2 separate regions of the Homo sapiens genome follow, and region 2 is linked to region 1. The links come from fine-mapping of genetic effects on gene expression. A gene starts in region 1. The other region holds a variant in brackets. All regions are shown on one strand. Distances are from middle to middle. Region 1 holds the start of FNIP2 (folliculin interacting protein 2). Region 2 overlaps FNIP2 (folliculin interacting protein 2).

Region 1 (5,382 bases):
ATCAGGGACACTATTGAAGGGGGCCCTCATCAAGTAGGATGTTCAACTGGGATCCCCAAATTCTCCAAAAACATCGATCTCAAATTCTTGTAGAAAATCCCAATGAGGTCAAAAAAAAGACCGTACTTGGCACGATTTTCTGTTCTTCATTATACACAAATGAGAAGTCAGAACACTACTGAAAATGTTCCCATGAAGTGGGAATCAATTTCCCTAATATGGCCCAAAACCCTAAATATAGCCATATTTTTTTTGTTCAAATACACTCAGTTAAACTTGTGGATAGCGGAAATGGTGGTAGGCAATTAGGCAAGGAGCACAGAAAACAATGACAAGTAACCGCCACTATCTCCTCCTGCATTCAAATGGCTTTAAATGTCCTTGGCAAGAGCTGTCAAAGTACAGACACCTGTAACATGCTCCTTCCGCTCCAGGCTTTGTACCCCTGATGGAGTCTGGGTTACAGGGAGGGAAGGGACGAAATTACACACCTTAGGTCCGAAGTAATTCTACCATTCTGAGAAGGTACATGGCATCACTAATACTCAGCCTAACAAAAGGCATAGAATTCCCACTCAAATTATAAGGCTTGTTAGCCTAAAGAAAACATGAGAATTTAACTTGGGGAGTTTAAGGTCCTCACAATATGCCTTCCATGAGCGCGCGTGCACACACACACACACGTTTAATTTTCACATGACCACAGTGAGAGACTGTTTTAAATGATGGAATTCAAGAAAAGCAAAATCTAGAACATAAAACTTAATCCAGAATTTATTTCAAAGTTTCACTTGAAACTTTTAAAGGTTTATTATACTGGGTCTAGATCTGTTTAACAGTGAACTGTTTTTGCAAGACATTTTGGCCAAAAAGCACCTAGCATAGTGTCAGAATTGGGAGTTGGTGCTCAATTTTAAAATGTGTTGAAAAATTGTTAAATAAACTTCTCAACATACCTGTGCTCAAAGGCAATATAGGACATTTTAAGGCGTCTTTTAAAAGTTAGCCCTTGAAATCAGAATAGCATAGGGATTTTAAAGACTGGAATCTGTGGTCAAACTGCTTGGGTCAAAACACAGGCTCTACCACTGACAGCTGGATTTTGGGCAAGCCGCCTAAGTTATCTGTGACTTTAAGTTTCCTCACCTGTAAAATGGGAATTATAATAGCACCCACCTCACCGCATTGTCAGAAAAGTAAACGACAGAAATCAACATAAAGCATTTTAGGTAGTAAGCTCTCCATAAATGCTATCAATATTCAAAGGTATGTGTTCGAGAGATCAAATCTATTAAATATACATATCAGCTTTGATCAATTGAAATCTCGGAAATTTCATAATTGCATCTTACTCCCCCTTTCCACACATCATGCGGCATCAACCTTCCACATGATGTGGAAATTACATACTTTCATTCATCCGTTTGAGAGCTTGTCATATATGGCAAGAAAGAAGAAAGATGCCTTTTTCGTGACTGTTGCTCCTTCAGAACTTCAAAACACTGTCACGTACACAATAGGTTGGAGCTGCCCTCAAAATGACAGCTCACAGCTTTGCTGGGCCCGCAGAGGTGCCCAGGCGGCTCTGCCCGGAAGGGGTTCACCCCAATAACCGGAGAATCTCCGGTCGCCACAGCCAAGCACAGCGCACGCCCGGGAACCCCAAGGAACACAAGAGAACTCTGAAATGGGGAAGGACCCTGAGTTGTGGAGAAAGAGCGGGAGGAAGGGTCACGGAGGGTCCGGAGCCACACTCGGATCAGGCGCGTCCACGCTGACAAGCCCGGGACCAGGTGCCGGCGATAGGCAGCGCCGTCCTGGACAGTCCCTTCCCTTTCCCCTACCCGTCCCCTCCCCGGCGAGCACCGAAGCCAACTCGGGTCCCGCGCCAGAATTGCCCCCCGGCGCCCCCTCACCTAAAGGCGGGTCCTTCCTTAGGAGCCCTGCCCTGGGCAGACGCCGCCGCGGAGCTGCCGCTGCTGCCCCTTTTGTTGAAGAGCTTCTGGAGCAGGGTCGGGGCCATGATGCCGCCGCCGCAGCTCCGGCCGTGGCGCTCGGGGGGCCGGCGGCTCAGCGCGCAGCCGGGGGCGGCGGCCGCGGTGGCGGGGCCATCGCGGCGGCGCGGCCGCCCAGCCTTGCGGGAGCGCGGGGCCGCTGCGACTGAGTAACTCTGCTCGGCGCCGGAGCCGCCGGCTGCCGGTCATATGACTGAGCCGGCCCGCCACCGCCTCGCGCGCTGACAGTTATCTCCTGCGGGAGGAGCCCGCAGCCCCACGGCGGCGGCGGCGGCGCGGGAGGAGCGCGGCGGCCCCGGCGGCGGCCATTGGCCCGGCGGCCGCCCGCCCCGGGCTCACGTAACCCCGGCGGGAGGCGGGAGGTGGGAGGTGCGGCCAGGAGCGGGCGGGCGGCCCAGTACTCCGGGCACGCGGGGGACGCGGACGGGGGCAGGCGCGGCACTTAAAGGGGCCCGAGGGGCGAGGGCGGCCGCCGGGGCGCAGCTCCGCGAGTGGCGTGGGGTTCCCACGGAGCCTGGGTTCTTTCGCACAGCGAGCATGCAGCTAGGCCGATCTTTGTTCTTTAGAGACAAAGCCCCTGAACTTGGGTCCTCGCTTTGTTCAGGTACAAGAGCCCGTTCACAGAAGGCGTATGCTAGGGGGGAAGGCTTGGTACGCGCGGTGGCCGCTTCGGTGGGCTGTGATTTGAATCACATAGCACCCAAGGTTTTGTCAGGTTTCCTCCATGTCCAAATTCGATTCCTCCAGGCTTTCACAAAATTTAAACTGTTTATCCAAATCATTTGTTCTGTTTGGCGTCTTGGGCCACCATACCATGGTTATATAAGAAGTTGCATTTGAAATATTAAGTCCCCCCTTTAAAACATACACACACACACACACACACACACACACACACACACACAGAACTCACTACATAGATTTAGAAACTTAAGATATTTTATAGCAAGGGATTGTTTTTCCTAATACATATTTAACAGTCAATCAAGGCATATCAGCAGCAGATATTTGGTTTGAGGAAGGGAGGAGTTCATGTGTTTGAGTCCGCTTTCCTGCCCTGTCCCACCCCAGTCCCCTTTGGAATTTAATCCTTGGTGGTGCAGGGCTCTAAACAGCCAGTGTAGGACACGTTACCAGACTCAAAGCAACTTCTTAATCTATGTTTTAGAGCGTTGGGCTTCACGAATTTTTCCGATGATGGGAAATAGAGATAAAGTTAGTAAGACCCCAACCATGCCTCTTCTAGCTTCTCCATGAGTAGTGAACAGTGACTCACCTGGGCTCTCTTACACTTGTTGAGAGGAGGACTCTTGGAGACTCAAAAAGGAAAATATATTTCCAAAAACATAAGTAATCAAAAGAACCTATTCTGGGCCTATTTTACTTTGCATTTTCTTTTTTTAATTGTGTTAGTTTCTGGACTTGGTTGGGAACTAGCTGTGAATAATGTGCTGAAATTTCACAAAGGTAAGAGAAAGGTGGTAGAAATGGAAACTTAGTCATTTGTTTCCTTCGGACTTTTACTGTTAAAATGGTGGATTAAGTGTTTATCCTGATGAGCAATCATCCTTTTGCACAATTGAGTGTACACAGAACCCTAATTTGCAACTTTGCTATTTCTGTTTGCTGAAGGCCTTTACCTCATAGGGCTGCCAGTGTTGGTCAGGATGCTATATAGAAGGTATTGGCTTTATACGTTGTGACTTTCAGATACAGTCCCAGGTCATACTGTGGCCAGCAACTCACCACCTTTCCTTACTCCATCCTTGGTCAGAAAATGTCCTTTATTCTCCAGACTAAAATCTGCATGTTCCTCATGAGCCTAGCAGCTTTTGTAACTGCATATAGAAGAGGAATTTGACATATTGTGCCTCATTCCTCACTTCCTAGGACTCTTTCAGTTCCAACCCAGTCCAAATAGACAAGATCATCCAAAAGAGGCAATTAAAAAATCATAACCTGCTCTAGCCATCATCTTCAATTTTGGTTTTGACTAGGCAACTATAAAGGAAGAGTGTGTATTTTAAACTATTAAAGCCAGGACTTCAGTTAAAGGAGACAAAAGGAACCAAAATGCTTCCCTTCTCCCCTCTTTCTCCCTGTGCTTCCTCTCAGCATCACATTCTTCCTCATCCTGGTTCTGGCCACACCTCCTCCTTTGGATTTTTAAAGTATACAAAAATCCTAGCCAAAAAAGTTCTGGGAGACAGCTCTAGCCAGCTCTCCCAGTCTTCTTGTTTTTTATTTTTATTTTATTTTATTGGCTACTCAAGGCCGCTACAAAAATCCAATCTTTTGCCCATCATCCATTGGTCATTGCCTGGTCCCTGAGGCTTGTCATAATCTCAGTCTCCAACACTGGTCACGTGGCCCATCGCCCAGTTCCATACATCTCCTTTATTCACCTCTTCCCACTCACCCTATCTTGGAAAATATACCAGCTGGCTGTTCTTGTACGCAGCTGTCAAGAGGAGCAGGGAATAAGACAATATCCTGAATGCTTGGAGATGACAGAACAACACTAAAATGGGAAAGGGGAAGTTGTAAAGGGCTGACTTACTTAGTCCGGTCCATTCTGAGTCCTGGTGACAGTTCTCAATTAGTGGATATTATGTAAGTTGTTTTAGTTCTGCTTCTGCAATTAGACTGTCATTGATACCGTTTGTAGCCTATGTAATACCTGTTACCCTTATTCCTAACAGGAGGCAAGAGAGAAAGGAGCTGGAGGAAAAGGAGTAATTCTGGAAAAAGTTTCCTCACTCTTAATAGAAAGAGAGAGAGAGAGAGATAGGTGGGTTTTTTTCTTCCTTTGGATGTTATATGTCTAGGTCTAATGCCATCTTGCTACAAGCCTAAAGATGAAACCAGGACTGGAGATGGCAAAGAGACATAGAAGCGAGCTGGGTCCTTGATGGCATTATTGAGCCACAATCCCTCTGCCCTAACCTGACACTCTCCATTAGGTGAGATAATATTTCTATTTTCTTATAGACCAGTCTATAAGAGGCTGAGGCAGGTTCGTGTTTTCTGTCCTCTTTATTGCTTGTTATGTGAGACACATAATGCCAATCTGTTTATCTCTCAATATGCCAGAGAAAATACTTGTCACCAATGGTCCTGTTCTGTTTTTTCATACTGTTAAGTGATTTTGCAAATTATTTACAGAGCTAAGACTAAAGGAATAGTGAAAAATAATTCTTTAAAAAATTTTTAATTTCAGTACAGCAAACCCGTTTTTTATTCTATATTTTCCTGCATTTGAAGGATTATTTACCCTAAATGGACAGTGTTCTTTGAACGTAACTGACTACTTATCAATTAGCATATATGAACCAGGAACACAATCATCTTATAAATATTGATTCCA
Region 2 (5,382 bases), 58 kb before region 1:
ATATTTTAATAGGAACATCCTCTGTTTTCTAGGTTAAGAGAGACAGGCAAGGTAAAAGATTACTAAGTATATCAGGTTCGTCAACAGTTCTTCATTGGGAATTCCTTTTTAAAAGCATTCTGGTGCCTAGGTTGCATTAAAAAACAGAAGCTTTTTTTTTTCCCCAATAATGACAAAAACATGGTTTGGGATGGCAGAATGCTGAAGAAGGGTTCTAGACAAAAGGAGGTAGGTTATGTATTAAGACTTTATCCTCTTTTAATAATTTAACTATTATTTACACTTCAATTCACATAATTGACCTCTGTTTTGGTTATTTGAGTTTTGATTATTAGCTTTTTAGTATTATGTAGAGTCATAATCCATTACATTGATGAGGAGAAAGATGAGGCTTCAAATCTAAATTTTTACTAAGCAAATGGAACTAATAAAACAAAACTATTAATTTGGGCAGACTGGCTCGTAGGGTTTTTTGTTTGTTTGTTTGTTTGTGAGATGGAGTCTCACCCTGTTGCCAGGCTGTAGTGCAGCGGCATGATCTCGGCTCACTGCAACCCGTGCCTCCCGGGTTCAAGCAATTCTCCTGTCTCAGCCTCCAAGTAGCTGGGACTTACAGGTGCCCACCATCACGCCCAGCTAATTTTTTTGTATTTTTAGTGGAGATGGGGTTTCACCATGTTGACCAAGATGGTCTTGATCTCTTGACCTCGTGATCTGCCCACCTCAGCCTCTCAAAGTGCTGGATTACAGGCGTGAGCCACCGCGCCCGGCCTACTTGTGTTTTTAATGACACACCTCCTCTACTACTCCTTTAAAGGTAACAGGAAGGAAAATCATGAGGTTGAATTTGTAAGGGATGAAACCAAAACCCTGAAACAGGAGCTACTGTGAATTACATAGCATGTGATGGAAATATGGTCTTCAAAGGTTAAAGACAACAGAGGATGCTCTACTATACATTCCCTAGAGTTTGCCACTAATTTTTATCACAGTGACAAACGTATAAGGATAAACCTTTATTAATATTTACCTCTCCCCAAACATATTACTCCCTACAGAAGCTTCCTGCACCCTCTATGATAAGTTATTTCTATTCTGAGTCTTCTTTGCCTTTTTTTTTTCCTTGTGTAGCTTTTGCTTGGAAAAAAACATGAATGCAATTGCAGCTTATCTAATCTCCAATGTGACAGTCACACTGGTGGTCTAATGCAAATGCCTGCAGTCATGTGCTTGATACAAACTCATGACGTTTTGTGCTTGCCAAGGGAGGCTGGGGCGGTGGGGACTGAAAATGGGAAAAGAACGTAAGGAAAACACAAAATGTGCTGGACCACAACTGTCACTCCAGCAATGATGGCATTCAAAGTGGCACTTGATTATTCCTGAGCACCCAGCACTCCCTCAACACGCTAAAGATAAAGCTGTTACTCAATCTCACTTAAGCCAGAAACACAGCCCCTCAGAGGGCCTAAGTGACACGAGGTGCCACTGCTTCAGACTGCTAGACCCTTTGGCTGGAGTACAATGCTGAACAGTCTATAATTGGAGAAACCACCTGGTGTAGTGAATAGAGCACTGACTGGATTCTTTTGTAGCCTTGGGCAAGCTACAAACCTCCTGAACCTAAGATGCCTTTTTGGTTAGATGAATGCTTCTAAGAAAGCCTATGTTTCCAGATTCCAGCATTATCAGTGCTCTGGTACACTGAAGATTCCAGTTCCTTTTGAAAACTTGTGTTTCTTTTCCCCTCCACCTGCCACCACTATGAGCAGCCCCAGTGATAGCTGCTCAACTAGACCATCCATGTGAGGCCTTCAGAGAAATGGGAAATAATTCAAGAAACTAAGAGGTAAACCATCTCCTGTCCACCAAAGGGTCAAGTGCTGGCTCACCTAAATTTCTGTTACAAATCTAACCTGGAAAGCCTACAGTGAATCACCTGAGAGATTTCTTGGTTTCCCCCTCCCTCCCTTCACCTACCTAACAAGCCCAACAACTACTGTAATGATTAGCCACCTGGCAGAACTCCACTTTAAAACACT[G/A]TGGAATCCACCCAGCTAAACTGTGTTTAACCAAACACTTCCTTCCTGCAGAAATGATCCTTATCAAAAGCAGGAAAACAACCCCTTGGCCCTGATGAGACAAAGACTGCGTTATAAACTGTTCATTTACTTAGCTGCACATTCTACAAACTGCCAGTATTTGGTCAGTATGGGTAGCAACTTATTGAACATAAAAAGAATGAATACAAGTGGATTTATTTAATTTGTAGGCATCTGAACAAATACTGAAAAGAGAATGAAAGGTCTAAAGTGAATTTACAAGTACCCTGGTATCATATCCAAAAAAGACCCAGAAAGGATCAGACTCTCCTCACCTTAAACATGTTACTTTACCATTCCCATTCTGGTTCCAAGGGATCAAGAGCTGCTCTATCCTCACTCTACCCATTGCTTGTCGCCCACCCTACACCACCACCACCACCACCACTACCACCCAACTCTCCACAAAAAAAATGGGAAATAAATAAAAGCTCCCCTGGTCAGAAGGGTTTGAGAAACAATCCTTTTTGAAGATAACAATGCAGGTTTGCATATGGAAGTCCTGTAAATAAGCAAAGCTGTTTAATTTTGTTTAACCCAGTGCTACTTATTATTATCCATGAGAAACACTGGACAGAATGATCTTCACACTAACACTTTATCACTTTATGAATTTTAGAGTTCTGCTTTCCCATTACATTTGAGGCACTCACTTGGCATCAAAATCTTACTGGATTGCAACTCACCAGCAAATTTACCTCTAGTACTATTAATAGTACACTGCTTAGCTCCTGCCATGATTACTTGCTAACAGTTTCACTTGTGTTTAGCAGTGAGCATACTCATGCCTGTTGGGGGTAGGGCTTTGATTAAAGGATTCAATGCTTGCTTATGTTTCTTCTGAACCATTAATGGCACTGTATAATATAACTCAAAGAGAAGATGATAGATTAATAAATGATTGATCAGAAGGGTGGTTAAAAGCACAAAAGAAAAGGAGAAAGCAAATCAGCATTTCATACCTGAGCTGTCACCTCCTCAATCTTTTGAACAGCTTTAGAGTCAAACAAGACTTGTCTGCCTCTCCTGTCACAGTCCTGGTAAACTATCAGGCGAATCTCATTCAGGTCAAACTCCGAACATGACCAACTGTGGATTAAAAAGGGCAAAAGAAGTTATGTTATCTGCAGCACATGAGATGATCACAGACAGATAAGCTTCCCAGTCACCATGCCTGTGTGCACATCAAAAGGCCACAAGCATGCAGGGCTAGTGATCCCCTCAGAACTGGGGCACCAGTGAGCCTGGGACAGATAGCCTTGTATGTGGATTCCAAAGGGCCATATGAAAATTGCCAGTTTTCATGATAAGGGCTGAGAAGACTGCTTTAAATAATAAATCACTGGAGAGAAAGCTTCTCCTTCCAAAGCCAATTTGGACACAGATGGCAGTCAGAAATCACAAGGACATGCAGAGAAGACTAAATTTGGATGCCTGGGTTCTGGGGACAGCATATCCGAGTTAAAGGAGTGTTAAGGCTTCTGTGTTATTGGGCAGGGAACCATTTGGAGCAAGTCGGTAGAGCCTTCTCTTCTTTCCCTCACCCACACTCAGGTCAAATTAAGAGGAATTACATACCCTAAAATTTATTATCTTCCCCGATTATGGCTAGCTCTAATCCAGGAGTTTCAGAAACCAAGTGCATCACTGTAGAGCACTGGAATTGCTAGCAATTACAGTCAGCAAGAAAGGAAGCATGTTTCTAAGCAAACCAAAAGCAACTGGGATAAAACTGCTCTGAGGAAAACATAGGTTCATTCTTAATAAATTACAGAGTGAGGGAACTACAGAAAAGATAATCATTTAAAAGTGCACTGCTTTGGATATACTCAGTTTTTAACCCATCAGTCCAGTCAACACATATTTGAGTGTCTGTGATGTTCCAGGCACTGTGGTTGCTGCTAGAGACTCAGCAATTAATTAACCAGACAGACCTGGTCCCCACCCTTATGGAGTTCATGATTCAGTGGGGAATGTTAGGCAAATAATCACAGACGAATGTATCACTACAAACTGTGAAAAGTACAAAAAGGAGCAGTAAACAGCTTCAGATTTCCAGATTGAAGGGGTAGGGGAAAGGGACAGAGAAGTCCCTAAGGACTTGAAGTGACATGTAAACACAGACCTGAAGAAGCAAAACAAATGATGCGCACCATAGGAACAGAGAAGGAGGTGGTAAGGTGTAAGACTGCTGCACTGGAGAAGGAAGAAGAAAAAAGGCCAGAGAGTGAGTGCCGTGAGGTGGAAAGGACGGCAGGCAGGGGCCAGGATCATGTTCTCCCTCCATGAGAAGCCAAGGAAAACAGACGCTTGATAAGATCAGGTCTGCACTTTTTGAAAGTTCAATCTGGCTGTTAAGGAAAATGGGGGTGGAAGAGATGAAGACTGGAAGCAGGAAGGCCAAACAGAATTCATAATAAGAGTTCTGGCCCTTCATAATGAAGGCTAGAGCTCCAGCAGCAGAGGTGGGGGAAAGGGGACAGACACTGGTGGCATGCTCAGAGGACAGAGTTGAGCCGGTTTCCCAATGGACTGGAGAGGTGCCCGAGGTGAAAGGGGGCCTTGCTTAGAGAAGCTGAGGGGGAGCTCTGACAGGACAGAGGAGGATAGATGGACACACAGACAGACTAACAAAAGCAAACTGTAAAACTAGGAGATGATATAAATGAAATAAGACACATCTGGATTCAAACCCAAATGCCTCTGGCCTCCTAGTTCTTCATCAGTACAATGAGAATATTAAGGCTGCCCTCACAAAGCTGTCCTACAAAGCGTAAAGTGCCTCACACAAAGTGTGACACACAGTAAGTGCTCCAAAATGGCAATAATTGCCTCAGAGGATTGGTAATGTTATGATTTTTAAAGAAAATTAATACAGTGTCTGGTACTCAATCACAAATTGTGCATTTTTGGTCTTTTCCTTTTTCAGGCAGTTAATACTGAACATGTTCTTTTTGGGTAGCAGATTTGTTTTCTTAAATCCCTACGGCAAAACATATAAAGTTCTGGTTGTACCTTCTTTCAACAAGCTGTGCCCTAAGTTATCACGCCCAGCATCCTTTCCTCCTAATCTTGATAATAATAAGCCAAGTTTATTTTCAAACCATCTTCCCTCTACTCTCAGTCCAGAGGGAGTCCATGTTTCAGGTCTGGCTAATGAGACATGGCCACATGACCCAAGCTGGCTGTGTGAGCCAGCCCCAAAACTCAGTTGTTCAGCTTGTAAATGGTAACCCTGGAGTTGGTGGTGGCTATTTTTGCCATCATGAAGTAAGGGCCT

The links.
Region 2: its variant is fine-mapped to the expression of FNIP2 in T cells (TOPMed, PIP 0.94).

Annotation. Positions count from the first base shown.
Region 1 is chr4:158,765,854-158,771,235 of GRCh38, reverse strand. FNIP2 (folliculin interacting protein 2) reads right to left here and starts at 2,210. Exons shown (of 17, transcript NM_020840.3): 1 at 1,917-2,210. The coding sequence starts at 2,023. RefSeq lists an enhancer at 1,565-2,302 and a silencer at 2,260-2,469.
Region 2 is chr4:158,823,725-158,829,106 of GRCh38, reverse strand. It overlaps FNIP2 (folliculin interacting protein 2), which reads right to left. Exons shown (of 17, transcript NM_020840.3): 2 at 3,065-3,191; 3 at 1-28. Among named protein-coding and RNA genes, the nearest start is that of FNIP2, 57 kb to the right of the region's middle. The variant G/A (reference allele first, on the strand shown) is at 2,043.